5 separate regions of the Homo sapiens genome follow, and regions 1, 2, 3 and 5 are each linked to region 4. The links come from fine-mapping of genetic effects on gene expression. A gene starts in region 4. Each other region holds a variant in brackets. All regions are shown on one strand. Distances are from middle to middle.

Evidence for each region.
Region 1: its variant is fine-mapped to the expression of BST1 in whole blood (INTERVAL, PIP 0.96).
Region 2: its variant is fine-mapped to the expression of BST1 in whole blood (TOPMed, PIP 0.98).
Region 3: its variant is fine-mapped to the expression of BST1 in whole blood (TOPMed, PIP above 0.99).
Region 5: its variant is fine-mapped to the expression of BST1 in whole blood (TOPMed, PIP above 0.99).

What each region holds. Positions count from the first base shown.
Region 1 is chr4:15,764,759-15,770,669 of GRCh38, reverse strand. It overlaps a transcript of BST1 not described here. Among named protein-coding and RNA genes, the nearest start is that of CD38, 11 kb to the left of the region's middle. The variant A/G (reference allele first, on the strand shown) is at 3,118.
Region 2 is chr4:15,728,393-15,734,303 of GRCh38, reverse strand. BST1 (bone marrow stromal cell antigen 1) reads right to left here. Exons shown (of 9, transcript NM_004334.3): 9 at 1,517-2,564. The coding sequence ends at 2,459. It also overlaps the pseudogene RPL10AP7. Among named protein-coding and RNA genes, the nearest start is that of BST1, 28 kb to the right of the region's middle. The variant T/G (reference allele first, on the strand shown) is at 2,473.
Region 3 is chr4:15,720,226-15,726,136 of GRCh38, reverse strand. BST1 (bone marrow stromal cell antigen 1) reads right to left here. Exons shown (of 9, transcript NM_004334.3): 8 at 3,203-3,262. Among named protein-coding and RNA genes, the nearest start is that of BST1, 20 kb to the right of the region's middle. The variant T/C (reference allele first, on the strand shown) is at 2,305.
Region 4 is chr4:15,699,826-15,705,736 of GRCh38, reverse strand. It overlaps BST1 (bone marrow stromal cell antigen 1), which reads right to left and starts at 2,672. Exons shown (of 9, transcript NM_004334.3): 1 at 2,405-2,672; 2 at 96-222. The coding sequence starts at 2,592. RefSeq lists a silencer at 2,654-2,733.
Region 5 is chr4:15,735,253-15,741,163 of GRCh38, reverse strand. It overlaps a transcript of BST1 not described here. Among named protein-coding and RNA genes, the nearest start is that of BST1, 35 kb to the right of the region's middle. The variant T/C (reference allele first, on the strand shown) is at 3,289.

The DNA.
Region 1 (5,911 bases), 65 kb before region 4:
GGAGTGCAATGATGCAATCTCGGCTCACCGCAACCTCTGCCTCCCGGGCTCAAGCGATTCTCCTGCCTCAGCCTCCCGAGTAGCTGGGAGGCACGTGCCACTGTGCCCAGCTAATTTTTGTATTTTTAGTAGAGACGGGGCTTCACCATGTTGCCCAGGCTGGTCATGAACTCCTGACCTCAGGTGATCCACCCGCCTCGGCCTCCCAAAGTTCTGGGATTACAGACGTGAGCCACCACACCTGGCCCGGAGTAGTTTTTAGGAAGCCTTTGAAAAGACAGTGACACCACAGCAGGCTGTTGAAGGGCAAGCAAGGTTTGCAAAAAGGAGGGAACAGCATATAAACAGAACGGCGGGGAGAACAACAGATTTGGGGACACCTGGGGACAAGAGGCATGACTATCTCCAGGCCACACAGCTGGTTAGTAGAAACATTGGTTCTAGAATAAAAAGCACACATGTTCTTCTTTCTTTGGTCAACTTCATTAGTCATTTTAAAATCATTCAAGTAAAAAAAAAAATCACATTTTAGCCATGCCCGGTGGCTTACGCCTGTAATCCCAGCACTTTGGGAGGCCAAGGTGGGCGGATCACTTGAGGTCAAGAGTTCGAGACCAGCCTGGCCAACATGGTGAAACCACGTCTCTACTGAAAATACAAAAGTTAGCCAGGCGCAGTGGCACACACCTGTAATCACAGCTACTCAGGAGGCTGAAGCAGGAGAATCACTTGAGCCTAGGTGGTGGAAGTTGCAGTGAACTGAAATCGTGCCACTGCACTCCAGCCTGGGCGACAGAGGGAGATTGTCTTTAAAAAAAAAACAAAAAACTACATTTTAAAAGTGGAAATAGAGCAAAGAAGAAAAATGCTCCCACTCGTAGCCCAACTACCACTAACATTTTGGTAGTATCTTGCCTTTTTTTCCCCTAATCTTTGTTAGCTTTAAAAATGATTAAAAAATATTATTTGATATTGTAAACATATATATACATATATATATAGAGAGAGAGAAATTCTGTTCTTTCTGCTTCACTGTGTATACGTGGCTCCTTCCAGGCCATATGTCCTCTCCCAAACCACCAGAGCCCAGACTCCAATACCAGCTCTCCACCCCCACTAGCTCTTTGAGCCTGAGCATCTCATGTAACTCCCTGTGGCTCAGGCTTGCTGCAAGAACATGTGAGTGTACATGTCAAGCAAAAAGCAGCCAATTTCCCTGGGAAAGCTTCTAGAAATGGGGGAGCCTCCTCTCTTCAGTTCCCCCACTAGAAGGGCAGCTCCATGCCAACAGGGCCGTTGCCTGCCTTTGTTCACCAGAAATACCAAGTTCTCTGTCCCTAGCACCAGAACCATGCCCAGTATGTGGTTGGCACTCAAGCAACGCCTGCAGAATAAGCAGCTCCTTCTCCCACAGTTCAAACTCAGTGACAACAGGCTGGACATTCACCAACAGATCCAAGGTCTTCATCGGATTCACCGGCTAAAACCATCTATCAACAAGCATCTGTTGGCTCATTTGCTGAGAAATAAGGCACAATGTTGAAGGGAGAAAAGGGAGATGCTGGAATTCATACATAATTCTTGTTTTTTTTTTTCTTTCAACAATAATTGCTAACATCGTTGAGTGTCAGGTCCTTTGTGAACTGTACCCTCACAACACTGCCATCATGTAAACATGTGATGATTTTCATATTGTAAATGTGAAAATAAAGGCTTACAGTTGACAGACTCAGTCTGTTCTCAAAGGGGATTTATGCCCCATAGTGGGAACTTCTGGAAACATGCTCTTGGGTACGGGTCTGTGGCAGCTGTCAGGAGGGCTTTTTTTTCCCCAAGCCAAACTGTATTCAGTTTTATTAAAGATACTGTCCATCGGCCGGGCGCGGTGGCTCACGCCTGTAATCCCAGCACTTTGGGAGGCTGAGGCGGGTGGATCATGAGGTCAGGAGATCGAGACCATCCTGGCTAACGAGGTGAAACCCCATCTCTACTAAAAATACAAAAAAAAATTAGCCGGGCGCGGTGGCGGGCGCCTGTAGTCCCAGCTACTCGGGAGGCTGAGGCAGGAGAATGGCGTGAACCCGGGAAGCGGAGCTTGCAGTGAGCCGAGATTGCGCCACTGCAGTCCGCAGTCCGGCCTGGGTGACAGAGTGAGACTCCGTCTCAAAAAAAAAAAAAAAAAAAAAAAAGATACTGTCCATCAACACTCATGGTATTTCAGCAGGACATGGGCAGACAATCATTAACAGTATACAACAACTTTCAAACTCTCTTCTTCCATGGACTACCAAAAATCAGAAAGCCACTCTAAAACCCATGAAGCTTTCGACTGATGCTCTAAACAGGGAAAGTTTAGAGTGAGGGTTGACATTTCACATTTAGCGCATTGTTTAACAACTTTAAATTCTGCCATTTTTATTTCACTTCCTGAAAGTCAGGGTTATCTGAAGATCCACAGTCTAGAATCGGAACCGCTGCTCTTTGGAGGGGCAGCATCTCAGTGGCATCACTGGAAAGTCCAGATTGCCTAACACACTGGTAACCAATTATTGGGGGTCAGGTCCCAACAGGTGTCTGGATTTAAGGGAGTTAAGTCTGTGCTGAAAGGTAGAAAGGAAGAAGAGGATTTAAAAATGAATGATTTTGTTTTTCCATACCACAAAGCTTTTGTGCCAAGGTGACCATGTGGTCAAAGTCAGGGAATCCCTCCTCCTGGGAGCCAAGAGGAAGTCTTTCAAAACTACAAGGGGGCTGAGCATGGTGGCTTATGCCTGTAATCTCAACACTTGAGGAGGCCGAGATGGGCAGATCACTTGAGGTCAGGAGTTCGAGACCAGCCTGGCCAACATGGTGAAATTCCATCTCTACTAAAAATAAAAAAAAAATTAAAAACTAGAAGGGAAAAGTGTTTTCCCCACATCAATCCAGCTTCAGAGACATTCTATTAGTGACGTATGCCCCTTCCCCAAAAAAACAATAAAGTGTTCTGTGTGCTAACAACATAGCTTTAAAAAGAGTAAAACAAAATTCTGATTTTTATAAAACTTGATTAAAAAAAAAAAAGTAGGGCCGGGCACGGTGGCTCACGCTTGTAACCCCAGCACTTTGGAAAGCCGA[A/G]ACGGGCAGATCACAAGGTCAGGAGATCGAGACCATCCTGGCCAACATGGTGAAACCCTGTCTCTACTAAAAATACAAAAAATTAGCTGGGTGTGGCGGCACGTGCCTGTAGTCCCAGCTACTCAGGAGGCTGAGGCAGGAGAATGTCTTGAACCCGAGAGGTGGAGTTTGCAGTGAGCTGAGATCACACCATTACACTCCAGCCTGGTGACAGAGCAAGACTCCATCTCAAAAAAAAAAAAATTGATAAAAAGTAGTATTTCAAACTGTGCAGCCACCAGAAGTACACAATTTTCAAAAATGCACACATTTCCCTCGGCACCCCCAGCACCTTTGGCTTTCTGTGTGCCACGTCTGTTCGGGCATATCCATTTTCTGCAGGGTTATCCGCTCCTTGCCAGCGTCAACTTTTCCCTTTGGGTACTTTCTCTCCCTTCTTTGCAGGGGTCTTTTTAGGCTTCGGCTCTGGCTTTGGAGGGGCAGGGTTAGCAGACAACTTGCAGATCTACTATGTGGTTCATGCTTCACCTTGGCCTTATCTACTATAGCATCCCCTTCAGCTGTTCTCTTGGGCATGCTGGCAACGGCAGTGGGACATGGGCACTGGGCGTGGGATGCAGCAACGTGTGGGCATTGGTTGGTCCAGGGATTGTTCTCCCCTTTTCTTCACACTTCTTCTGGTCAGAAGGCTTTGAGTGTCACCAGGAAGCTCAGGGTTAACCTGTTTTTTTTTTAGGGAGGTCTTTTTTTTTTTTTTTTTTTTTTAGGGAGGTCTTTGTCTCCTCAATATGTTTTGTGCCTCCTCAAGTCAGGATACCATCACGAAAAGAAGAATAGATAAATGCTGAATGTCAAAAACAACAGAAAAGCATGCTCGTTGATGCCACACAGATCACACCTGTGACCTGCTTCTTTCTAGCAGATTCATGTAAGACAGCTGCATGATTTCTCCTCCCACATCCTGAAACCGAGCAAGGCTGAATCTTGTATTTACTACTCTTTCTGTATTTTTAATGAAATAAGAGTAAATAGAACTTGGCAAGATGCCTCAAAATGCTTTTAATTCACTTGGGCTGCCTGCCCTTCATTCTAGGCTTCCTTGTTTATTTCATCAGAGTAAAGACAGGAGTTCATCAAAAGTCAGCTTCTCAGCCACATCCTCCCTTAGGTCTGACCGCAGCTTAACAGATCTGGTGACTTTTCAGCTCTCCCACTGCCCCACCTCCCTCATCCAGTTGTTTTTCCTTAACCTTCAGGTGACAGTTTAGACACTCCAAATCTGAGACATCTTTTACAGGCCTTCATGTCTGGATTACAAGCTCGTATCATGGATAACCATATGCATCCTATACTTCCTGATTTTTTGGGACAGTTTTGCCACCCTACCTCCATCCCCAACTAGATTATAGAAGGATGCCAAACAGTCTTTGTCTCAGGTACGTCCTCAGTGGCTAGCAAGTCCCTGGTGCTTAGAGGGCACTGCACAACTGTATGTTGATGAGTATCACACTGTAATGCAATTCTTTTGACTTCCATCCCCTTATTCAGCCATTTGTGCATTAAATATTTACTGAGCACCATGAACTATTTTAGTACTGGGTTTATAGCTGTTAAACAAATTCGGTTGCCAGAAGCTTATGTTTTAAAGGGGAATCGACATATAATAGACAAGATAAGTAAACCATAGCACATGCGAGGTGATGATGAGGGCTAAGAAACAAACTCAGCAGGGAACAGGATAAAGACTTGGGGGAAGGTTGCAATTTTGGGTAAAGGACCAAGGAAGGTCTCACTCAGAAGGTGGCACTTGGGTAAGAATCTGAAGAAGGTGAGGTGAAATCTGGGGGAACAGGGCTCCAGACAGAGAAGAGCAATTGCAAAGGCCCTAAGGCAGAAGCAAGCCTGGTGTGTTCAGAGAACAGCAGAGGTCAAGTAACAGGTGCATGGCACAGGAAGAACAAGGAGGAAATATGTGGGAGATGAGGATAGAGATTTAATTGTGTGTTTGGGACCCGGAGATAGGCAGGCGCTGGTGCACAAGAGTGACATGTCCCGACGTGTTTTGTCAGGCTCACTCTGGCTGTTTGTTGAGCAGAAACGGAAGTGGGGCAGGGACAGAAGCAACGAGGCCATTTTGGAAGCCATGGTGCCATAATCCTGACAAGAGATGATGGTGCCTTGCACTGGGTTGGCATCAGCAGATGCAATTAAATTCTGAATATATTTTAAAGGTACAACAGACCGGATTTGCCGATAGAGTAAAGAGACAATGAGAGTAGTCAGAGACAACTCCAAGATTTTTGGCTTGAGCAACTGGAAGGATGGAGTTGTCGTTTACCAAGTGGAGAAAGACTATGAAAGGAGAATTCATTGGAGGTATGTCAAGTTTAAGATGCCAGTTATGTATCCAAGTGAAAATGTTGAGACAAACACCGTGCCATGCTCCACAAAGGTTAACTTGTTCAATCCCCATAAGAACCCCATGAGGTAAGTAGTACTGACCCCATCTTACAGGAAAGAGACTGAAGCCTGAAGCCCAGAGAGGAAGAGTGACTTTTCCAAGTTTACCTAGCTGGTTGGTGGTGGAAGTGGGGAACTGGGATTCAAACCTATGCAATAGGGCTCTGGAATTCATGCTTTTCTACACTTTGCAAAACACACACACACACACACACACACCTCACCTAATTCTAGTCACTTAAGATATTTCTTGCCATGAGCAGTCATTGAGCCCATTTATGAGCCAATCACTGTGGCCAGGGACTGGAGTGCTCCAATTAGATTGGGTCTGTGT
Region 2 (5,911 bases), 29 kb before region 4:
TTGACGAACACTTGGATTCATGCAATCACCACCACAATCAAGACACAGAGCAGCTCCATCGCTCCCAAAATTTTTCTCAGTGTCACTTTGCAGTCAGCGCCTCCTTCTAGTCCTGATCATTCTCAACCCCCACAATCACTGGTCTGCTCTCCGCTACTATAGTTCTGCCTTCTCGAGGATGTCATATAAATAGAATCATACAGTTGGTGGCCTTTTGGTGCGGCAGCTCTCACATTTGGGTTTCATCCATATTGCTGCATATATCAAGGTAGTTACCTTTATTGCTGAGTAGTATTCCATGGTGTAGATTTACCAGTTAGTTTATTCCTTCACCATCTGAAGGACATGTGAATTGGTAAACATGGCTTTTACTTGTTGAATGATACTCCATTCTACAAATATTCTAAAACCCATGTAAATAGTTCTGATATGGTTTGGCTCTGTATCCCCACCTAAATTTCATATTGAATTGTGATCCCCAGTGTTGAAGGTGGGGTCTGGTGGGAGGTGATTGGATCACGGAGGTGGTTTCGGATGGTTTAGCACCATCACCTAGTGCTGTCTCATGACAGAGTTCTCACGAGATCTGGTGGTTTGAAAGCATGTAGCACCTCCCCCTTCACTCCCTTCCTCCTTCTCTGGCCATGTAAGACATGACTGCTTCCCTTTTGCCTTCCATGATGATCGTAAGTTTCCTGAGGCCTCCCCAGCCATGCTTCCTGTAAGCCTGTGGAACAGAGAGGTGAAGCCAGCTGGACTTCCTAGGTCGAGAGGGGACTTGGAGAGCTTTTCTGTCTAGCTAAAGGATTGTAAATGCACCGATCAGCACTCTGTGTCTAGCTAAAGGATTGTAAATGCACCAGTCAGCACTCTGTAAAAACACACCAGTCAGCACTCTGTGTCCAGCTAAAGGATTGTAAACGCACCAATCAGCACTCTGTGTCTAGCTAAAGGATTGTAAATGCACCAGTCAGCACTCTGTAAAAACACACCAGTCAGCACTCTGTGTCCGGCTAAAGGATAGTAAACACACCAATCAGCACTCTGTGTCTAGCTAAAGGATTGTAAATGCATCAATCAGCACTCTGTAAAATGGACCAATCAGCGCTCTGTAAAATGGACCAATCAGCAGGATGTGGGTGGGACCAAATAAGGGAATAAAAGCTGGCCACCGAGCCAGCAGTGGCAACCAGCTTGGGTCCCCTTCCACATTGTGGAAGCTTTGTTTTTTCGCTCTTCACAATAAATCTTGCTGCTGCTCACTCTTTGGGTCCGCACTACCTTTAATAGCTGTAACACTTGCCGCGAAGGTCCGCAGCTTCATTCTTGAAGTCAGCGAGACCACGAACCCACCAGAAGGAAGAAACTCCAGACACATCTGAAGGAACAAACTCTGAACACACCATCTTTAAGAGCTGTAACACTCACTGCAAAAGTCCATGGCTTCATTCTTGAAGTCAGCAAGACCAAAAACCCAGAGGTTGTCACAATTTTGTCACAATTCTGGACACAGAACTGTGAGTCAATTAAACCTCTTTTTTATTTTTATTTTTGTAAATTACCCAGTCTCGGGCAGTTCTTTATAGCAATGCAAGAACAAACTAATACAAGTTCCAAACAGTTTCAGTAAATATGTAAATATTACTGGATATTTTGGGTTTTTCCCTCATTATAAGTAACTATTATGGCTGGATGTGGTGGCTCACGCCTGTAATCCTAGCACTTTGGGAGGCTGAGGTGGGTGGATCACCTGAGGTCAGGAATTCGAGACTAGCCTGGCCAACATGGTGAAACCCCATCTCTACTAAAAATACAAAAATTAGCTGGACATGGTGGCAGGCACCTGCAATCCCAGCTACTTGGGAGGCTGAGGCAGGAGAATCGCTTGAATCCTGGAAGCAGAGGTTGCAGTGAGCTGAGATCTCCCCACCTCACTCCAGCCTGGGCAAAGGAGCGAAACTCTGTCTCTCAAAACAAAAAGGAACCATTAACTGAACATCTTTATACCAAATAAATGAAAAATGAAAACTTTGCAGACCATATATGCATACATTTATATAGTATACATATGTCTTAAGCAATCAACAAGCATGCAGTGTCCGTGCTGCTGGAGATATAGGAAAATATAGATGATGTAAAATACAGCTTTATTAGAATTCTCTTAAAATGTTTGATAATATACAAGCAGTCTGACTCCCAATGCTTTGTGTCATTATACAAATAAGAAAATAACTTGCTTTAATTCTAATGCAGCATTTTTTAACCTGCTAAATAGAACTAACTTCTTGTTTCTGAAATCCTGAACATATGCCTCATTGAAATACCATTTTCAGGACATCGTTTTCCCAGCAAAAAGCTTCTTTAGATAACAGAATCATTTGGTATACACAGAACACGAATGATGACTGCAAGGGGAGGCTGCAGGGCTGGAGGAGGGTTAGAGCAACACAGTTTCCAGTTACAGTTGAGTCC[T/G]GGAAGCCAGCACCAGAAAGAGGGGAATGATAAGACCCGCCCTTTGTTCTGTATAAAGACTTGGGGCTTTTCTTTGAGTAGCGGCTGCTGCCCTGCAAATTAACAAGGAAATAGAGAAAGTGTCAGTATTGGTGTATGGAATCTACGCTCAAAAATATATGTGCAGTATTAGTCTCTTTTCTGGTTAGCGCGGAGCGAGAAGCCATGAGCAGCAAAGTCTCCCGTGACACCCCGTAGGAGGCGGTGCGCGAAGTCCTGCACCGAAACCAGCGCAAGCACCCCAAGTTTCTGGAGATGGTGGAGTTGCAGATCAGCTTCAAGAACTATGACTCCCCAGAAGGACAAGCGCTTCTCGGGCACCGTCAGGCTTAAGTCCACTCCCTGCCCCAAGTTCTCCATGTGTGTCCTGGGTAACCAGCAGCACCGTGACAAGGCCAAGCCTGTGGATTTCCACCACATGGAAAACGAGGTACTGAAAAAACTCAACAAGAATAAGAAACTGGTCAAGAAACTGGCCAAGAGTATGATGCATTTTTGGCCTCAGAGTCTCTGATCAAGCAGATCCCACGAATCCTCGGCCCAGTCCTAAATAAGGCAGGAAATTGCCCCTCCCTGCTCACACACAAGGAAAACATGGTGGCCAAAGTGGATGAGATGAAGTCCGTAATCAATTTCCACATGAAGAAGGTGTTATGTCTGGCTGTGGCTGTTGGCCACGTGAAAAGGACAGACAATGAGCTTGTGTGTAACAGTCACCTGCCTGTCAACTTCTTGGTGACATTGCTCAAGAAAAACTGGCAGAAAAACTGGCAGAATGTCCGGGCCTTATATATCGAGAGCACCATAGGCAAGCCCCAGTGCCTATATTAAGGCACATTTGAATAAATTCTACTGCTACCAGTATAAAAAAAAAAAAAGCAAATTGTGCACACTGTGGAGAAATGTACATAGTATATAGGAAGTTATAAAGTGGAAAGTAAAAGTCTCTTAGTCTCCCCATTTGCACTTTCCATAGAAAACCAACTTTGATAGTTTGAGTTCTCTTTCCAGGAATGCAATGAACACATGCATGCTGAACCTGCTCAATATAACTAATTCCTATTTCTGCAATCCTGAGCACACACGTCATTGAAATACCATCTCAAGACATTCTTTCCTGAGCAAAAAGCTTCTCTAGACAACAGGACCTGCTGCTGCCCTGCAAATTATCCTTAGATGTCTTTAGATATCCTTTTATCTAAGCACAAATGGAATCTGCAACGTGCGTTCTTCACCTAACATCATATTTTGAACATGCTTCCATATTGGTACACAGGGAGTTAACTCATTCTTCCTTGTGGATGAATTCTTATTGTACGGATGGAACACAGTGTTAGCCAGGTTTCCTACTGATGGCTATTACATGATCAGAGTTTAAGTGGTGAAGAAAAACCTGTCCTGACATGAAGACATCAACAGAGGGCCTGCCCAAAATATGGACCCTATTCATAGTAAACAGTATCTGGCCACTGGGTTTGTAAAAACAGAAATTACTGAATTCTTTTAAACCAACTAAAAGATGAATTTTAAAATTATGAAACCATCTAATGTTGGCTTGGAAATATATCCCATGGCTCTGGACTAGTGGCCCTGTCCTTAAAAGTTCCTGACTCCATTTGAATGCTGGTCCTCTCTTTTTTGCTAAAGAAATCTGACCCACAGGTTTGTATTAGTGCTCCACCTACCGGACATTTTCTACAATTGCACCTGTGATGCAGTTAATGTCCCAGACTCGATTCACTCAAAATTTAAAATTACTTTTGCTTTCAAATAATTAACTAATTAACATAAGGTTACATTTTTCTTTACTTTTTTAAAAAATAAAATAACACATAATTAGATACACTAATAATGACAGCCTCCCTTCATCTTTTTCCAGTTTCTATTCCTTTGCCTAGAAGGAACCCACAGTTAGGTGCTTGGAGTTTACTTTCTCAGACCTATTTCTATCACTTACATCCATTATCATGCACAAATAGAAACATGCTGTTTTGCTTTCTTCTGGTTTACATGTCTCGGTTCATGTTCTGTGCATTGGTTTCTCACTTTGTAGCTTAAAAACCTTTTCTTGTCAATGTGAGACTATACTTGAGGGGGTAACTGCACTATTTGCAGTTACTTTGATTTTTAAAATTGATTCTTGTTATTACATTTATATACTCAAAAGCCTAATTTTCCCATGCCCTTTTATTTAATTTATAAATCACATTGTTCTATTTAAAAACCTGGTGAACTCTGACAATAACTCTTAAGGATTTGTCACACTTACTTAATTCCTGTGATGTTTTAAACTCAAGTTATTTCAGGTTAAGTTATTATTATTATTATTATTCTTTGAGACAGGGTCTCATTCTGTCACCCAGGCTGGAGTGCAGTGGCATGACTACAGCTCGTTGAAGCATTGACCTTCCCGGGTTTAGAGAATCCTCCTGCCTCAGACTCCTGAGTAGCTGGGACCATAGGTGCACACCAACATACCCAGCCAATTTTTTGTTTGTTTGCTTGTAGAGGCGGGGTCTCGCCATGTTGCCTAGGCTGGTCTTGAATGCCTGGGTTCAAGTGATCCTCCCGCACTGAACTCCCAAAGTGCTACGGTTACAGGCATGAGCCACTGGGCAAGGCTTCAGGTTATTTTCAACTTAAATATTAAAATATTACATCTTTTTTAAAAAATATTTTAAATGACTTTAAATTAGCAAAACTTTCTCAATTACTTGATTGTAGTAAACCTAATAAATGTATAAAATTTAATCTTAATTCTTTTACAAATTCCAATACTGGTTCAAAACTTAGTAAAATTCTCTTATAACTTCCTACTAAAAATCCCAAGCCTAAAATCAGTTACTTGGCTGAGCATGGTGGTTCACACCTATAATCCCAGCACTTTGGGAGGCCAAGGCAGAAGGATCACCTGAAGTCAGGAGTTTGAGACCAGCCTGGCCAACATGGTAAAACTTCATCTCCACTAAAAATACAAAAATCAGCCAGGCGTGGTAGCTCACACCTGTGGGCCCAGCTACTTGGCAGGCTGAGGCAGGAGAATCACTTGAGCCCAGGAGGTGGAGGCTGCAGTGATGAGCCAAGATCAAGCCACTGAACTCTAGCCTGGGTGACAGAGCAAGACTCCATCAAAAAAAAAAAAAAAAAAAGGAAGGAAGGAAGGGAAAAGAAAATTTTCCAGTAGTGCTGGCTTGCTCCTGTAGTCTCAGCCACTTGAAAGGATGAGGCAGGAGGATCACTTGAACCCAGGAGGTTGAGGTTACAATATGCCATGATCACACCACTGCACTCCATGCCTGGGTGACAGAGCGATAACCTGTCTCCAAAAAAAAAAAAAAAAAAAGAAAAAGAATTAGTTACTTAATAGTAACCCATATACTGGCATCACAGGTTTAATCCA
Region 3 (5,911 bases), 20 kb before region 4:
CTTTAAAAGTTAGCTGGCGTAGTGGTAAGTGCCTGTATCCCCAGCTGTTTGGGAGGCTGAGGTGGGAGGATCACGTGAGCCCAGGAGGTCAAACCTGCAGTGAGCCGTGATTGTGCCACTGCACTACAGCCTGGGTGACAGAGAGAGGAGAGAGACCTCGTCTCAAAAAAAAAAAAAAAAAAAAAAAAAGACCGCACTTCACAAGTAGGTCAGTCAGAAGATAAACACTATAAAAAAGAAAAAAAATGCAGTCACATGAGGGTTTTGAAGAGCCACAGTTGTGAGATGGAGGCTATGATTTTAAATATTGAGATCAGGGATCAGGGTAACCTCATGGAGGCTTTGTAGATAAGAAAACTGACAATTTCAGATCATCTGACTAACTCAGTAAGAACAGAGTGCTTACTACTGCCAAAACGGTGTTTCCACAGGCTGATGAGCAGGAAAGCATATGATATCTTATGGGAAGTGGATCAAAACTAGCCTTGAAATAAACATTCCAGATGAGAAGCTGTGGGTGACGTGTCTGGAAAGAGTATGATGAACCTGGAAGATGGGACTAGAAGTCTGAACTTGGTAGTAGGTAACTTTGAAGGTTTTTGAGCAGCAGCGACATGAGGGTGGACTTCATTTTCAGGTGAGGAAAGGAAAGACCCAGGTTCACAGGCTATCCTTTACCTCCTGTGAAAGGACTCAGAAACGATGCATGCCAAATTCACAGGGAACGAATAGCATTAAAGAATGAGGAGAGGACTTAAATCCATCACCGAACCCTGGGATGTTGGCTCCTAGAATACATGCTGGAGATGATGGGTCTGTTGTCCTAATTTCCAGCCCAAAGAGCAAGACATCTGCCAGAGTGAATTTTGACAGTTCTCAGACTCCTTCAGATCCTGGTTCTGCCTGCACTAGCTGGGTGGTCTTGGGTGAGTCCTTCATAAACTTCTCTGAGCCAGAGTTTCTTTGCTTCTGAAGGGAGAATATGAACCTACCCACATTGGATCAAATAAAATCTGGCTTCTGTCTAAATGACAGTGGCTTAGAGAAGACAGATGTTTATTTCTCTCTCAGTAACTCTTCAGGGCTGGTAGAGTGATGCCATGGTACAGAGGCACCCGGCTTCCTTTTGCTGTGTTACTCTGCCACGCCCAGTTGAAGACGCTCACCTCCACATCTTGTGGGCCCATATACCAGCCAGCATAAAAGGAGAAAGGGAATGTAAGTCCCTTCCTTTCAAGTGCTAAACCCAGAAATTGCACATGTCACTTGGCCACAGTGGGTAGAGAGGCTAGGATCATTATTCTTGATAGCCATGAACCATCTAAAATTCAAGGGTTCTATTACTAAATGAAAAAGAGAATAAGAACTATATGGGGATGACAAGCCAGCTCACCAGTGCATGTGCTCTCTTTCTCTCTCTCTCTCTCTCTCTTATTTTATTTTATTTTTTGAGATGGAGTTTCACACTTGTTGACTGGGCTGGAGTGCACTGGTGCAATCTCGGCTCACTGCAACCTCTGCCTACTGGGTTCAAGTGATTCTCCTGCCTCAGCCTCCCAAGTAGCTGGGGTTACAGGCACGCACCACCACTCCTGGCTAATGTTTTGTATTTAGTAGAGATGGGGTTTCACCATGTTGGTCAGGCAGGTCTTGAACTCCTGACCTCAGGTGATCCACCCGCCTCAGCCTCCCAAAGTGCTGGGATTACAGGCATGAGCCACCACACCCAGCCTGACTCTCTTTAATGTACTGGTTATTCAGATAAACATACTATTTTATGTAGTGCACACAGCAAATGCCTAGCATATAGTTACTGTGCACTCTGATTAGTTCTCTTCCCTTGTAGATGGAAGAACGGATCCTACAGGCATAGATGGTGCACCTACTATGTGCAACTGTAATGAAAAATACTAAGAGAAACACAAAGAGGAAGGCAGAGTGAGGCAGGCAGATGGTACAGAATGAACGATAGCAGGGCTAGGAAGAGTAAAGCACTGTCATCAGGTTGTGTACAAAGTCCTTGGAAGCAAAGAGAAGGGAGTTCCTCAATCAACGTGGAGAATGAGGAAAGCCTCACAGAGCAAAGAACACTTGAGTTGGATTGTCAGGATAAGTATGATGTTAGTAAATAGATTTCGGAAAAGAATTCAAGTGGAGGGATCAGAAATCTTCCTGCCCACACAAACTGAAATGACAATAATGCACTATGTTTTACCCCTAAGATGGGCTAAAATGATAGGCTATAGGTACAGGCACAGATACAGATATGGATATAGAAAATACATAGCGTGGAGGAGTGGAGAA[T/C]GGGCACTCCTAGCATATACTGGTGGTGGAAGTGTATGCTGGCACAGCCTTTTTGAAACATATCAAAATTTCTCAGAACATATCAAAATTTAAAATACACACACATTCTTTGACTCAGCAACTCAATTTCTGGGAATCTATCCTACACAAATACTTGCACAACAGCTTAAAGTATATAATCAAGGATTATATTTCAGCATTGTTTATAATAGCAAAACAACTACTATAACAACATACAACCAAGCCAGCCCATGACTCAGAAAGGATTACATAAAAGGTGGTGTGGGCCAGGCGTGGTGGCTTACGCCTGTAATCCCAGCACTTTAGGAGGCCAAGGAAGGCGGATCACAAGGCCAGGAGATCGAGACCATCCTGGCTAACACGGTGAAACCCCGTCTCTACAAAAAAATACAAAAAAATTAGCTGGGCGTGGTGGCAGGCCCCTGTAGTCCCAGCTACTCGGGAGGCTGAGGCAGGAGAATGGTGTGAACTCGGAAGGCGGAGCTTGCAGTGAGCCGAGATTGCGCCACTGCACTCCAGCCTGGGCGATAGAGCGAGACTCTGCCCCCCGCCTCCCAAAAAAAAAGGTAGTGTGACCATCCTACAGATTGCTCTACAGCCACTAACAGACTAGGACAGAAGTATGAACAAACTTTAAAGGGTGGCCCCATTACACCAGCAAGTGAAGAAAGCTCACAGCAGGACGTTATGTGTAGCGTGATTGCTTTTTGTACAAAAACTAAGACAGATACATATAAATAAAAATAAGGCCAAACCAGAATCCAATGAGCACACTTACATCTGCCTCTGATAATATGTTCATGTTTGTGAACTGAAAACTTCTGAAAGGAGATGGTTATCTTTGGAAAGAACGATTTGGGTTAAGACATTTACTTACGACTTTAAGGCACAGTCAGGATGGGTGCTGTGGTCCACGCACTGTAAGAGCTTCACTGGTCTACAGAAAGAAAATAATATTTAAGGGATTATTTAAATAACTTTCATCCATCAACCATTTATGGCTTGCCTGAAAAGTCCTGGAGATACAGTAGTCTCTGACCTCAAATAATACACAAACTATTTCCTCTAAAAATATTAGTGGCCCAGCACGGTGGCTTACACCTGTAATCCCAGCACTTTGGGAGGTTGAGGCAGGAGGACTGCTTGAGACCAGGAGTTTGAGACCAGCCTGGGCAACATAGCGAGACCTTGGCTCTACAAAAAAAAAAAAAAAAAAAAATCTAAAAATTATCTGGGTGCAGACGCTCATGCCTATAGTCTCAGCTACCCAGGAGGCTGAGGCAGGAGGCCCAGGAGTTCAAGGCTGCAGTGAGCTATGATCGCACCACTGCACTCCAGCCTGGATAACAGAGTGAGGCCTTGTATCTAGAAAAACTAAAACAAATGAAAATATTAGCCAGCATTTATCAAGCACTTCCTACGTACCAAGACATTTGATTATATCTTTTGTAAGGATCATGTCATGTAATCCTCATAACAACCAAATGGAATAGGTGCTTTATCTTCTCCAATTTACAATTGAGAAAGCTGACCACAATAACCCACCCAAGTTCTCACAGTAGCAAGTTGAAGGGCTGAACTTGAACTATGCAGGCTGACTCTAGGGCCTGAGCTTCTAACCATTTCTGTATGCACGTACAACTCGTATGACCTGATAAGTACTTTGGGCAGAAGGTTGGACTTGAACCACATGGGTGATGGCCAATGCTCAGGCATCAGAGAGGAAAGCTAACTTGCTGTGCACAACAGAGGGAGAAGATGTGAAGTTCCAAGCCACCAGGAGGGGAAGGGAAGCAGCAATGAAGACAGGAGCCAGGTCTTGGTGGCACACGGGGAGTTAGGTAGGAGGCAAGCCTAGACAGGATCTCTGTGGCACGATCACTGCAGGGGACTATGGAAGAACAGGAACGTGATATTGTTGTCTCTATGGCATGCCATGTCTTCTGTCCTTGACTCAGCTACCTTTCAGTAGTGTCTACTTGATGCACATATTTTTATTTTTTATTATTATACTTCAAGTTCTAGGGTACATGTGCACAACGTGCAGGTTTGTTACATATGTATACACATGCCATGTTGGTGTGCCACACCTGTCAACTCGTCATTTACATTAGGTATGTCTCCTAATGCTATCCCTCCCCCCTCCCCCTACCCCACGACAGGCCCCAGTGTGTGATATTCCCTACCCTGTGTCCAAGGGTTCTCATTGTTCAGTTCCCACCTGTGAGTGAGAACATGCGGTGTTTGGTTTTCTGTCCTTGGGATAGTTTGCTCAGAATGATTGTGTCTAGCTTCATCCATGTCCCTACAAAGGACATGAACTCATCCTTTTTATGGCTGCATAGTATTCCATGGTGTATATGTGATGCACATATTTTTAATAAAAGTAGTTATCTGTCATTGTTTATGCCCAAAAACAGGTATGGAGTTTTCACTGAGTCTGATTCAACACAGTACTGGCAGAAACCAACCAGAAGGTAAGGGAGGCCATGAAAAGATAAGCCCCCTCCAAAATGGGCAAGAACCTCAGGGAGAACTTTCTACTGATGTGGGGCAGAAGGCAATGCCACCTGAATTGTGAGGGGCAGGAGTTTCTCACATCTGGGTTGGAGTTGGATTTGTTATGTTAACCCTCATCACTTTCCCATTTATACCTTTCATTATATCCTCTCTGCTCCTGACACTAACACAGAAACAGCCTATGGGCAATAAAGAAATGGGAGCTTCCTCATTTCTTTACTGAGTCAGGCCTGGAAGAGAAGAGCCCTGAGGCTGACTGAGGTAGGGACACAATAGAGAGGAAGCACATAAGCCCAGACCCAGGGCAGCCGTGAGGGGCAAGGAGACCTGGGCTCTGGCCCGGCTATTATAACTCAGCCCAATGACATAAAAACAAAGCAAAGTGGTTGTGAATGCAACAATTTTAGCTACAATTTTCTCCATCATTGAGCTTTTTGTTGTTGTTGTTTGTTTGTTTGTTTTTGAGGGGGCGATGGCTAGGGGTTTACTTTGTTTTATTTTGAGACCAGGTCCTGCTCTGTCACCCAGGCTAGAGTGCAGTGGCACCATCATAGCTCACTGTTCCCTTGAACTCCTGGGCTCAAGCAATCCTCCCACCTCAGCCTCCCAAATAGCTGGAACTACAGGTGCATGCCACTGCACTTGGCTATTGAGCTGTTTTGGATTAAGAACTGATTTTTTTTTTTTTTTTTGAGACAGAGTCTTGCTCTTGTCACCCAGGCTCTTGTCACCCTGGCTCACTGGAACCTCTGCCTCAAGTGATTCTCCTGCCTCAGCCTCCCGAGTAGCTGGGATTACAGGCACCAGTCACCACACGCGGCTAATTTTTGTATTTTTAGTAGAGACGGGGTTTCACCATGTTGGCCAGGCTGGTCTCGAACTCCTGACCTTGTTATCCGCCCGCCTCGGCCTTCCAAAGTGCTGGGATTACAGGTATGAGCCACTGCACTCGGCCAAGAATTGAATGTTTTTTAAAATGTACTACTGGAGCTTCAATTAAGGAAGGAAGAGCTTGGTAGCAGGAGGGAAAGAGCGTGCGTTAAGGCCATGCAAAGCTGGGTTCAAA
Region 4 (5,911 bases):
GATGCAGGGGACAGCTAATGTCAACCTGGCCCATGCACCATCCATTTCTGTAGAGACAGAGAACACAGTTTTACCCAAGATGGTTGTGGTGTTACCTTATCTCTGGGAATAGAGTGCCTGGACAAGTTAATAAAAAGGTCATAGTCTGAGGGCAGCACGGAGCAGGGATCCTTGTCCAGCGCCACTTTAAAGGCTTCCCAGATGGCTGTGCAGTTCTTGTTCCTGTGCAAAAGTACAAGTTGGGAAGAACACACACATGCACATCATAATGTGTTGTGAAGTATGCCCATTTGTCTAAGAGCTTTACAAGAGATTTTTCATATAGTAACTGCAGAAGTAGGCTTACAAAAAAGACAACGAATTGTCATGGCTTAGGTGACAGATTCAGAAATCTGACACTGGAATTGTCTCTCTGAAGGCACTGCACAGATTTCTCAGAGCTAAGGAATACAGCCTTGCCCCAGGCTCACGGAGACAAGCAGAAATGGCACCGAGCAGGAGGTGACAAATTCAGTCAACTATACAGCAGGTGCCTCTTCATTTAGACCTAACGGTGGGGCCAGTCTCATAGTCCAGTTCCAGTGTGGAGCTCGGGGACCAGGTGAGGCCAGGCCAGCCAGCAGGATGTGTAGTGTTAGGAGGGAGGCCCAATGCTGCAAAAGGCTTCCACCTCTGGCAAAGCAGGTGCACCCTCCAGTGCAAGCCCCTCTTGAGGTCCATGCTAGTTTTCAAAAAATATTTCCCATAGCATTTGTAACTTTGTTTCTCATACTGGGTGGTGTGTAACACAGGTGGTTCTCTGCTGTTTCTTATTTGCCTGAAATGTGCGACAATAAAAATGATCAGCACAAGAAAGACATCACAAACATAAGAAAAGGGGGGCCACAGAAGGAACAAAAATCAGTAAGAAATGCAGCACTGGCAAGAAAGACCCAAACTTCAGAAATCCTCCAGATTTAGGGGATCTGAAATTTGAATTCTGGAAGGACTGGACTCAAGGAATTCCAACCTGAGATCACATTCTGGGTTCTGAGTATTCAGACTAAACATCTGCTGGGTGGCAATGGGCTGTTACCCAGTTCACCTCTACCCCACCCTCACTTCTAGAGGGATACCTCTCCACCCTCCTTCACACTCACACACACCTCTCACCTCTAGACCACACACACATCCCTCACCTCTAGACCACACACACATCCCTCACCTATAGACCACACACACACACCTGTCACCTCTAGACTACACACACACACCCCTCACCTCTAGAACAAACACACACACATCTCACCTCTAGAACACACACACAACTCACCTCTAGAACACACACACACACACATCCCTTACCTCTAGAACACACACACCTCTCACTTCTAGAACACACACACCCATCATCTCTAGAACACACACATCTCACCTCTAGAACACACACCCCTCAACTCCAGAACACACACACACCCCTCACCTCTAGAACACACATACACACCTCATCTCTAGAACACACACTCTCCTCAGCTCTAGAATACACATACACCCCCTCACCTCTAGAACACACACACCCCTCACCTCTAGACCACACACACATCCCTCACCTCTAGACCACACACACATCCCTCACCTATAGACCACACACACACACCTGTCACCTCTAGACTACACACACACACCCCTCACCTCTAGAACACAGATACACACACACCTCTAGAACACATGCACGCACCCCTCACCTCTAGAACACACACACACACATCTCACCTCCAGAACACACACACCCCTCACTTCTAGAACACACACACCCCTCACCTCTAGAATACACACACCCCTCACCTCTAGAGCGCACGCACACACACCCCCTTCACCTCTAGAACACACATGCACACACCCCTCACCTCTAGAACACACATACAGACACCTCACCTCTGGAACACACACACCCCTTACCTCTAGAACACACACACACATCTCACCTTTAGAACACACACACACACCCCTCACCTCTAGAGCACACACACACACACACACCCCCACCTCTAGAGCACACACACACACATCCACCTCTAGAGCACACACACACCTCCCACCTCTAGAGCGCGCGCACACACACACCCCCCTCACCTCTAGAACACACGCACACACCCCTCACCTCTACAGTGTGTGTGTGCGCGCACACACACACACTCATCTCTAGACCCCGCACAGCGCACCCCTCACCTGCAGACACACTTCACAGCCCCCTCCTCACTCGCCCCCATCGTTCAGGACCATCGCTGTCTCCACACTCACCTCTCCCCTCAAGGCCTCTCTCATTGCCCCCTCACCCCGAACTTTAGCGCCAGTTTTCCCCTCCCCAGGCCCTCCCCACCGTTGCCTCTTTCCGGCTCCCCTTCCACCCGGCCGACTGCCTCACCGCTGCTCGGGACTCAGCAGTGCGCGGTACTCGGCGCAGCGGCCCAGGAAGATGTCCCGCAAGTGTGCGCTGGTGCCCTCCCCGCGCCACCGCGCGCGCGCCCCGCCCGCCGCCAGCAGCAACAGTAGAAGCAGAAGCTGCAGCAGCAGCTGGAGCAGCCGCGATGCCGCGCACCCCTGGGCCGCCATCGGGGAACTTTGGTCCCTCCAGTCCCGTGCTTCCTCCACTCCCCTTCTCTCCTTCTACCAAGGCGGTTCCGCAAACTGATGCAGGGCGGGACTCTCGCTCGGATATCTCGCTGTTTGCCGTTTCCCGTTCCAGACAATTTCAAGACTGAGCGTGGGGCGGGGCGCGGCGGCTCATGCCTGTAATCCCAGCACTTTGAGAGGCCTAGACGGGCGGATCGCTTGAGTATAGGAGTTCGAGACAAACCTGAGTAACATACAGGTGAGAAACCTCCTCTCTACAAAAAAATACAAAACTTAGCTGGTCCTGGTGGTGCGCATCTGTAGTCTCAGCTACCTGCGAGGTGAGATGTGAGGAGGCTTGACCCCAGGGGATCGAGGCTGCAGCGAGCAGTGATTGCACCACTGCACTCCAGCCCTGGGCGACAGAGTGAGACTCTGTCTAAAAAAAAAATTAATAAATAAATAAAATTAAAAAAGAGTGAGCTTGGAACATCACCCAGGACAGGACCAGTGCACTGTGGCCCAGGCTAATCTTGACCGCTGTCCACGGGGAGGGAGCCCCAAAGAAGCCGCAAGGTTGAAGGAGAGGTGAGGAGAGGTCAGTCATCATCAGAAGAAATACTTTTCTGGCTCCAAAGGACGACAACTTTGACAGATGCCCTCTTTCACACCAACCAATAAGTGGTGTTTGTTTGTTTTCAGGAAATAATAACCACAACAACGTGCCAAGCACTTTGCAAGTATAATATTAATTACTTTCCGCAACACCCTTCCTAGCTAAGTTTGTAATTTCTCTCGCTTTAGCAATGGATAAACTCAGGGAAGTTAAGCATGTTCGGCCCTCCAGATTTGCGGATTCATCATCCAAATTCAGCTAACCACGGATGAGAAACATTTGAGGAAAAAAAGAATGCTTGCATCTGTACGGAACATGTACGGACTTTTTTTTCCTTGTCATCATTCCCTAAATAATCCAATGTAACAACTACTTATGTAACAATTACATAGTACTTGATATTACAAGGAATCTGGAGATGACGTGAATTATAGAAGAGGATGTGCAAATACTGTATACTACACCATTTAATATAAGGGCCTTGAGCATCTGTGGATTTTGGTATCCAGGAGGTTCCTGGAACCAATTCTCCATGGATACCTACCGCCGACTGTAACTTGTCAGAGGTCACAATATCCCTTCCTGATAGATGCAAAATCCTGGAGATGTTCAGTTTAAGAGAGCCAGGATTGGCCGGGCGCGGTGGCTCACACCTGTAATCCCAGCACTTTGGGAGGCCGAGGCGGGTGGATCACGAGGTCAAGAGATCGAGACCATCCTTGCTAACACGGTGAAACCCCGTCTCTACTAAAAATACAAAAGATTAGCCAGGCGCGGTGGCGGGCGCCTGTTGTCCCAGCTACTCGGGAGGCTGAGGCGGGAAAACGGCGTGAACCCAGGAGGCAGAGCTCGCAGTGAGCCGAGATCGGGCCACTGCACTCCAGTCTGGGCAACAGAGTGAGACTCCGTCTCAAAAAAAAAAAAAAAAAGAGCCAGTATTAATAGAATACCACGTGGAGGCCCAAGTCCTCAATTCTTACAATAATGACAGCAATGAACTTTGAGTGCCTGGCAAGCACTTGATAAACACAAGGGAGGACAGAACAGGTGTTCTCTACTGTTTTATTTGAATCTCTTTTTTTCTGTAACCAAAACCCGCATTCTCCTGTTCAGTTCCTCCTTAAGTTAAATCCACTTTCCAGAGGAAAGCATTTTTAATTCTTTCAAGTTTTGTTCCTGTGTTTACTTCCATATTTCTAAATAACATGTGTGAACCCGCAAATTTTGAGACAGGTCTCAATTAATTTAGAAAGTTTATTTTAGCAAGGTTGAGGACACGTGTCCATGACACAACCTCAGGAAGTCCTGACGACATGTACCCAAGGTGGTCAGGGCACAGCTTGGTTTTATACATTTTAGGGAGACATGAGATATCAATCAATATATGTAAGAAGTACATTGGTTCTGTCCAGAGAGGCGGGGACAACTCGAAGCACGGAGGGGGCTTCCAGGTCTCAGGTAGGTGAGAGACAAATGGTTGCCTTCTTTTGAGTTTCTGATAAGCCTTTCCAAAGAAGGCCATCAGAATATGCATATATCTCAGTGAGCAGCTGAATGACTTTGAATAGAATGGGAGGCAAGTTTGCCCTGAGCAGTTCCCAGCCTGACTTTTCCCTTTAGTTTAGTAATTTTGGGGCATCCCTGGCATGGCTCGTCCCACCAAATCTAATGTGAAATTGTAATCCCCAACGTTGGAGGTGGGGCCTGGTGGGAGGTGATTTTATCATGGGTGTGGGTTTCTCAAGAATAGTCTAGCACCATCCCCTTGTTGCTATTCTCATGATAGTAAGTGAGATCTGGTTGTTTTAAACTGTGTAGCACTGGCAGGGCGCCGTGGCTCACACCTGTAATCACAGCAGTTTGGGAGGCTGGTGTGGGGGGTGTGTTGGGAATCACGGATCGAGACCATCCTGGCCAACATGGTGAAACCCCATCTATACTAAAAATACAAAAATTAGCTGGGCGTGGTGGCACGCACCTGTAGTCCCAGCTCTTCGGGAGGCTGAGGCAGAAGAATCGCTTGAACCTGGGAGGCGGAGGTTGCAGTGAGCTGAGATCTCACCACTGCACTCCAGCCTGGTGACAGAGTGAGACTCTGTCTCAAAAAAAAAAAAAAAAGAAGTGTGTAGCACCTCCTCCCTCTCTCTTGCTCCCTGCTGCCACCGTGTAAGACCCATTGCTCCCCCTTTGCCTTCCACCACATTTGGAAACTTCCTGAAGCCTCTCCAGATGCAGAAGCCACTATGCTTCCTACAGCCTGCAGAACTGTGAGCCAATTCAACCTCTTTTTCTTATAAATGAGCAGTTTCAGGTATCTATAGCAATGCAAGAACAGACTAATACAATACCTATATGCTATTTCTTGATGTTTCTGTTTGGGACATTATTCTGTTTGGGACATTATGACATTTTATTTGTTGTAAACCTCTTGTTTACCCTGGAGGTAATCATTATCTAGAAAGTAACTAGCTTGCTTTTGATATTACAGGCTCATAGGCAGAAGGCATTTGCCTTGTCTCAGATGAAACTTTGAACTGTGGACTTTTGGGCTAATGTTGAAGTTAAGACTTTGAGGGTCTGTTGAGAAGGCATGATTGGTTTTGAAATGTGAGGATGTGAGATTTGGAGGGGCCGGGGTGGAATGATATGGTTTGGCTGTGTCCCCACCCAAATCTCAACTTGAATTGTATCTCCCAGAATTCC
Region 5 (5,911 bases), 35 kb before region 4:
CTGTAGCAGCCCCGTTTGACAACTTTGTTGGAGGAGGAGTGAGTAACGGCCAAATTCAATCTTTTGTCGCTAGATATAATACCAAAAAAACTGTCACTGCTCTTCCCAAGACTCCTAATCAATATCATCAGTAAATATTGGCTGAGTAAATATATGCAACCTCTGTCACAACTACTCAACTCTGCGGTTCATGACGGATAATGAACCCTGTGGACCCCTCACGAACCACGGAGTTGAGTAGTTGCGACAGAGGTTGCATGGCCAGCAAAGCTAAAAGTATTACTTCACCTTTTACAGAAAATGTTCATTGGCCTATGGCCTAAAATCTGAGGGATTCAGTAGTCCCCGTCCCAGTTGCTGCACTGGGAATCTCCAGACGGATAGTTTGGCTTGTAAATAATGCTCCAGCCTCTGTTGCTGCTCCTTCTTCACCAACATATAAGAAATAAAATTACATTTTATTTTAATATCCTCAGCTCTGCTGTCAAATATTTGTTATAATTTAACAAATTAATAAATTTGTTAAATAAGGTGCAAATGCTGAAGACAAACTCAGTAGTTGAGAACATAAACCTTTGTATAGATTAGTCTCCCTACCTGAAAATATTTCCAATCCACCCCCTCACACCTTCACCTCTCATCTGGCTAATAGCTCTCGTTTTTTCAGGTTCAACTTAAGGAAGACTTTCTCTGGAAAGCCTCCTCTCCCGATACTAGACTATGTTAGGTTTCCCCCAGTGCACAATCCCAAAGGACTCTGTTTCATCTTCATCCCACAAATGAAAGTAGATAATAACTACTAATTTAGGCCCGACATGGTGGCTCATGCCTATAATCCTAGCACTTTGGGAACCCAAGGCGGGCAGATCACTGTGGTTAGAAGTTTGAGACCAGCCTGGTCAACATGGCAAAACCCCGTCTCTAGCAAAAAGAATACAAAAAATTAGCCAGGCATAGTGGCGTGTGCCTGTAGTCCCAGCTGCTAGGGAGGCCGAGGCATGAGAATCACTTGAACCTGGGAGGCAGACGTTGCAGTGAGACGAGACGGTGCCACTGCACTCCAGCCTCGGTGACAGAACGAGATTCAGTCCCCCCTGCCCCCAACTAATTTAGTTATCAGCCAGTGAGGATCAGGAGATACACTCTCTCCCTGTCTCTCTCTATCCTTATCTCTCTCTCTCTCCCTTCTTCCCTCTCTTTCTCTGTCTCTCTCTGTTTCTCTGTCTGTCTGTCTCTCTCTCTGTCAATGTCTCCCTCTCCTTTTCTCTCTCTCACCGACTTCCCTCCCTCCCTTTCTCCTTCCCCCTCCTACCACCAAATTTTATTACTAGCAGCAATGGTGAACAATGACTTCACTCTGATTATATTTCTGTACACATCTTTTTACCCTACAAAATTTAATCGAGTTTAATGTGTTCCCCTGAGAGCTTGTCACTGTATGTTAACTATTTTAAAATTTTACAAGCACCATCTTAGAGTTACTGTGTCACATGTCCTATAGCAAAGTCATGAAGGTGCAGCTGGCACAAGTCAAATGAAAACCCTTCTACTTTTGTGCAGGGGAGAAATACACACACACACACACACACACACACACACACACACACACGGTTTGGCTTCTTAACATGCATTTTTCTCAAATAAGTAAGTCATTTCAGTGAAGAGTTTGGGTAATTCTGACAGCTACCCTTTAATAGCTACATGATAAAAGAAGTTCCAAAGAACCAAATCACGTAACAAAGAATACATGTGCTTTAGAGAACCTGCTGCATTCTACATCTTTTAGGGGGAAAAACAAAACTATATTCCTAAAATTCTAAGCGGAGTGATTTAATACATATACGTTTCATATTGAAACATGTTTTAAAGAGACTACCAAGAAAACACAAATACATAAGACTTCAAGTAATGAGTAATTATGGTGAAATTAGCATAGTTCAGATTTTCCAACCTGCTTCATTGGTTATGCATGTGGGTGTTTGAAACCCTTGCCAGGTCTTTAAAAACAAGCTCCCAGTCTCAGCAATAGCTGTGCCCTGTTCTCCAGCATGGGCTTTCAATTTGCCCTTCTCTTTGGTGCCAAAAGTCTCCTGAGAAGAGTAAGGCTGAGTTCTGGGTTTCAAATGCCTGTGAATTAAGTTCTAGCAACTGCAGAGTCTCCAATGATGATTCATTGTCCTGAGTTCCACTTTCTCACCCTGGGAAACTTCAGAAAGACTGAAATGGAAATGAGCATTAGGAGCTAGGTCCGCTTGCCTGGGCTGTCTCTCAGGTTAGTGGAACTGGGATTACTTCTCAATCAGCCATGTTCATTTGGCACCTTTGGCAAACCTCAATTTTCACAGCAGGAGAAATAAAAAAAGCTAGTGTTCACTTGGCACATGCCTGCTTCTAGTCTTTACTTTGGAAATTTTCATTGTTGTGTTAGCTTACCAGGGTGGCCATAACGAACTATGAATTTGAGGGAACACAGTTCCGTCTGTAACAATCGTGTGGAAGCTGAACTTCAAACAGGTAAGCTATCAGCTGGCTAACGTGTGGTCATTCCCACTTCCCATCAAGGTTTTTTATTTTTATTTTTATTTTTTTATCAAACTCTCTTGCCTTCCAACATATATTTTTAAATCAAACAATATTTAGGAATGTTTTTAGGATCTTTTTCTCCTTTTATACTGACCAACATCATAGACTCCTCACCCTGTTTAACATCTTTGTATTCTCCGGTCTTTGTGAATGTCCCTCTGCTACCTTACTAGACACACCAGACTGACCGACTCTCTTATCAAAGAATGACTTATAGACGTCATTATTCTTTTTCCCAAGTGTCTGAAATTCCTTTTCAAATTAGGCTTTCATTTTTTTGAATAGGCTTTAATGTTTAGAGCAGTTTTAGGTTCACAGCAAATTTGAGCAGAAAGTACAGAGCTTCCCACATACGCTCTGTCCCCACACATACATAGCCTCCCCCACTGGCAGCATCCCCACCAGAGTGGTGGAGTGGTGCATTTGTCACAACTAATGAACCGACATTGAAACATCATGGTCACCCAGCCTCTGTAGTTTACCTGAGGGTTCACCCTTGGTGTTGTACCTTCTGTAGGTTTGGACACATATATAATCACCTGTATCCACAATTCTAGTATCATGCAGAGTATTTTCACCACCCTAAATATTTGGGAGTCCATTTTATCCTGTTTCCTCTGAAGCTTGTGGAGAGCATTCATGTGGACGGAGCTGGACTAGGCAGGCATGCAATTGACTCAACTCTTGCCAGAGCCTCTGGAGATT[T/C]CGGCTTCCTTGCTGTGGGAGTGGAAGGCATTTACATCTTTGGACTCTCTGACAGTCAGTATCTTCCCCATCATGGTTCCCACAGTTTCCTGTTCAGGTTCAGAAAGTACCTTGTTACCAAGTCTATCGTGCTAGAGGGAATACAGCCAAGTGTAAGGTACCTGGTACCTACGACAGGAGAGGAAAGAGAACTCAGTTCTTCATGTGCCCACCCAGTCCTTGTGCTCAGGGGTCTTCCATGTGCATTTCTCTTTTGGTCAAATGCTTAGCATTGTTCATTCACTTGGTAGAAGAGCATTAAGTACCCATTAAGTGTGCCAGGCATGGAGCTGGTGCTGGGACCTGTTTGTTGAAGACACACGAGGCTGGTTTTCTTAGCTGCTTTTGCCAGGGCTCCCTGCTGCCCCCTTGCTGCCCAGACCATGGAGGAACCGAGGCCAAGAGAGGTGACCTTGGCCAAGTAAGAAAAGCTTTCTATGTCTATGTTTTCTCATCTGTAAAATAGGATAATAAGAGAATTGATCCTATGGGGTCGAGTGAGGATTGAAAGGGGCCATTTATGAAAATACTTCACACAGTGCCCAGTGCACAGTAACTTCTGATCTGCAGAGAGTGCTGTATTGCAGATGGTGTTTAGACAGCTATCAAACAACTCTAGTAGTAGTAACAATAACACTAGCAAATAACACTTATACAGGGCTGATCTACTATACTCCTGGCACTGTTCTGGGTTCTTTATGCACATTCGCTCATTGAATTATGAGTACTTATAATCCCTACTTACACACACGGTGATGCAGCTCAGGTAAGGTAAGTGAGTTGCCCAAGGCTACACAGCGAGCAAGTGCTGAAGGTAGGATGTGGGCCAACCTGTTAGGTGCCAGAGTCCATGCTCTTGGCCACAATGTTAGGCTGCCTCCCCATTTCCTTTGTCTTGATTCCCCAAACCCAAGGTTCTCACCCAATCTGATCAAATGCTGACTAGGTCATGGCTGGTCAGGGTAAAGCATTATGACAGACACAAAGACAAAGAGGTAAAGTTGCTGTCCTCAAGAGAGAGAGACATAAAAACAAATGGATCTGGAACTAAGTAAGGCTTCGAGGAGGAGGTGAGCAAAGGTACCAGATCCAAAGGCTTATGTTGAGAATACGGAACTGAGAGAAGGTTCATGGAGAGTGCAGTGGGGTCTCCTGGGACACAGACCTAGTAAGGCAGTTTAGGGGCAAATGGAAAGATCTTGAATCGCAGATTTTTTTTTTTTTTTGGAGACAGAGTCTCACTCTATCACCCAGGCTGGAGTGCAGTGGAGCAATCTAGGCTCACTGCAACCTCTGTGTCCTTGGTTCAAGCAGTTCTCCTGCCTCAACCTTCAGAGTACCTGGGATTACAGGCACGTGCCACCACGCCCAGCTAATTTTTGTATTTTTAGTACATACAGGGTTTCACCATGTTGTCCAGGGCTCCTGACCTCAAGTGATCTGCCCACCTTGGCCTCACAAAGTGCTGGAATTATAGGCAGGAGCCACTGCGCCCGGCTTCTTGAAGAGCAGATTTTAAAATTTGAAATTTGTCTTGCCAAGGGTAGGAAACCATTGCTGATTTTGAGCAAGAGGACGATGCACTCAGGACCCTAGCGTAGGACATTGCTCTGGCAGCATTGTGGAAGTTAGGCTGAAGGAGAAACCAAGCAGAAGCAGAGAGATCAGTCAGGAGGCAATGATATGTTTGAAACCCATGATTTACCTTGTACAAAGGCTAGAACCGGCGGTTGTATGGTTCTGCTCTGGGTCGCACTCCTAATGTCCCACATAGCCTCTTGGGTCTATAAATATAAATATGTGCATAAAAACACATAGAAAAATGTCTGCTACTCTGCGTGCAGTATGACAGATGAGATTTGCCTTCTTCCTAATTTTTCTGTATTGTGTAGATTTTTTTCAAGTAAAGAGCCATTATTACTCTTATATTCGGGAAAAAAGTGAAGTTATGTTTAGTTTTTAAAAATAAAGCCTTATTTTTCTTATGGAACTCAAAATGGCATTTCTCTAATTGAGTCGCAGGTCACTGTGCTGTGAGTGGCTAAGTCGCCTGGTAACCCAGGCAACATGAAGGCAGCAGACACTGTGTTTTCCAAGCTTGGTCTAAGAGACGCCCCTTGGCTGGGGCTCCCATGGGATTGGCCTAAGGAGCCAGACGGTCCTGAGACAAACCATGAATTATGAATTGGAAGTTGGTTGGTTGGGTCCTTTTCTCTTTCTCTAAGTACCCAAAAGTCTTATGCTGCTTGTCATCTTCCCTCACGGCTCCCCTCACACACCCTAGCAATATCACACACTTCAAGTGTTTTATGAAAGTATGCCATAAATACAGAAAAGCATGCCACACCTTGTTATTAAGCTTCCCTTGTACCCTCCCTGGCCTCCTCCAACAAAAGAAAGCTAAAGAATCCCCCACCCTCTGTTTTCCTCTATTAAACTTAGTTCATTCACACGTGGAAGGTCTACTTCATCCAAGCAGGGCTAGGCTAGGGCTGCAAAGATGAGTGAGTCTGCAAAGAAGCCACAGTCCCAGGGTGAAGTTAGGCAAGGACCCAAACAATGCTGACACCATGAAGATGGGCCC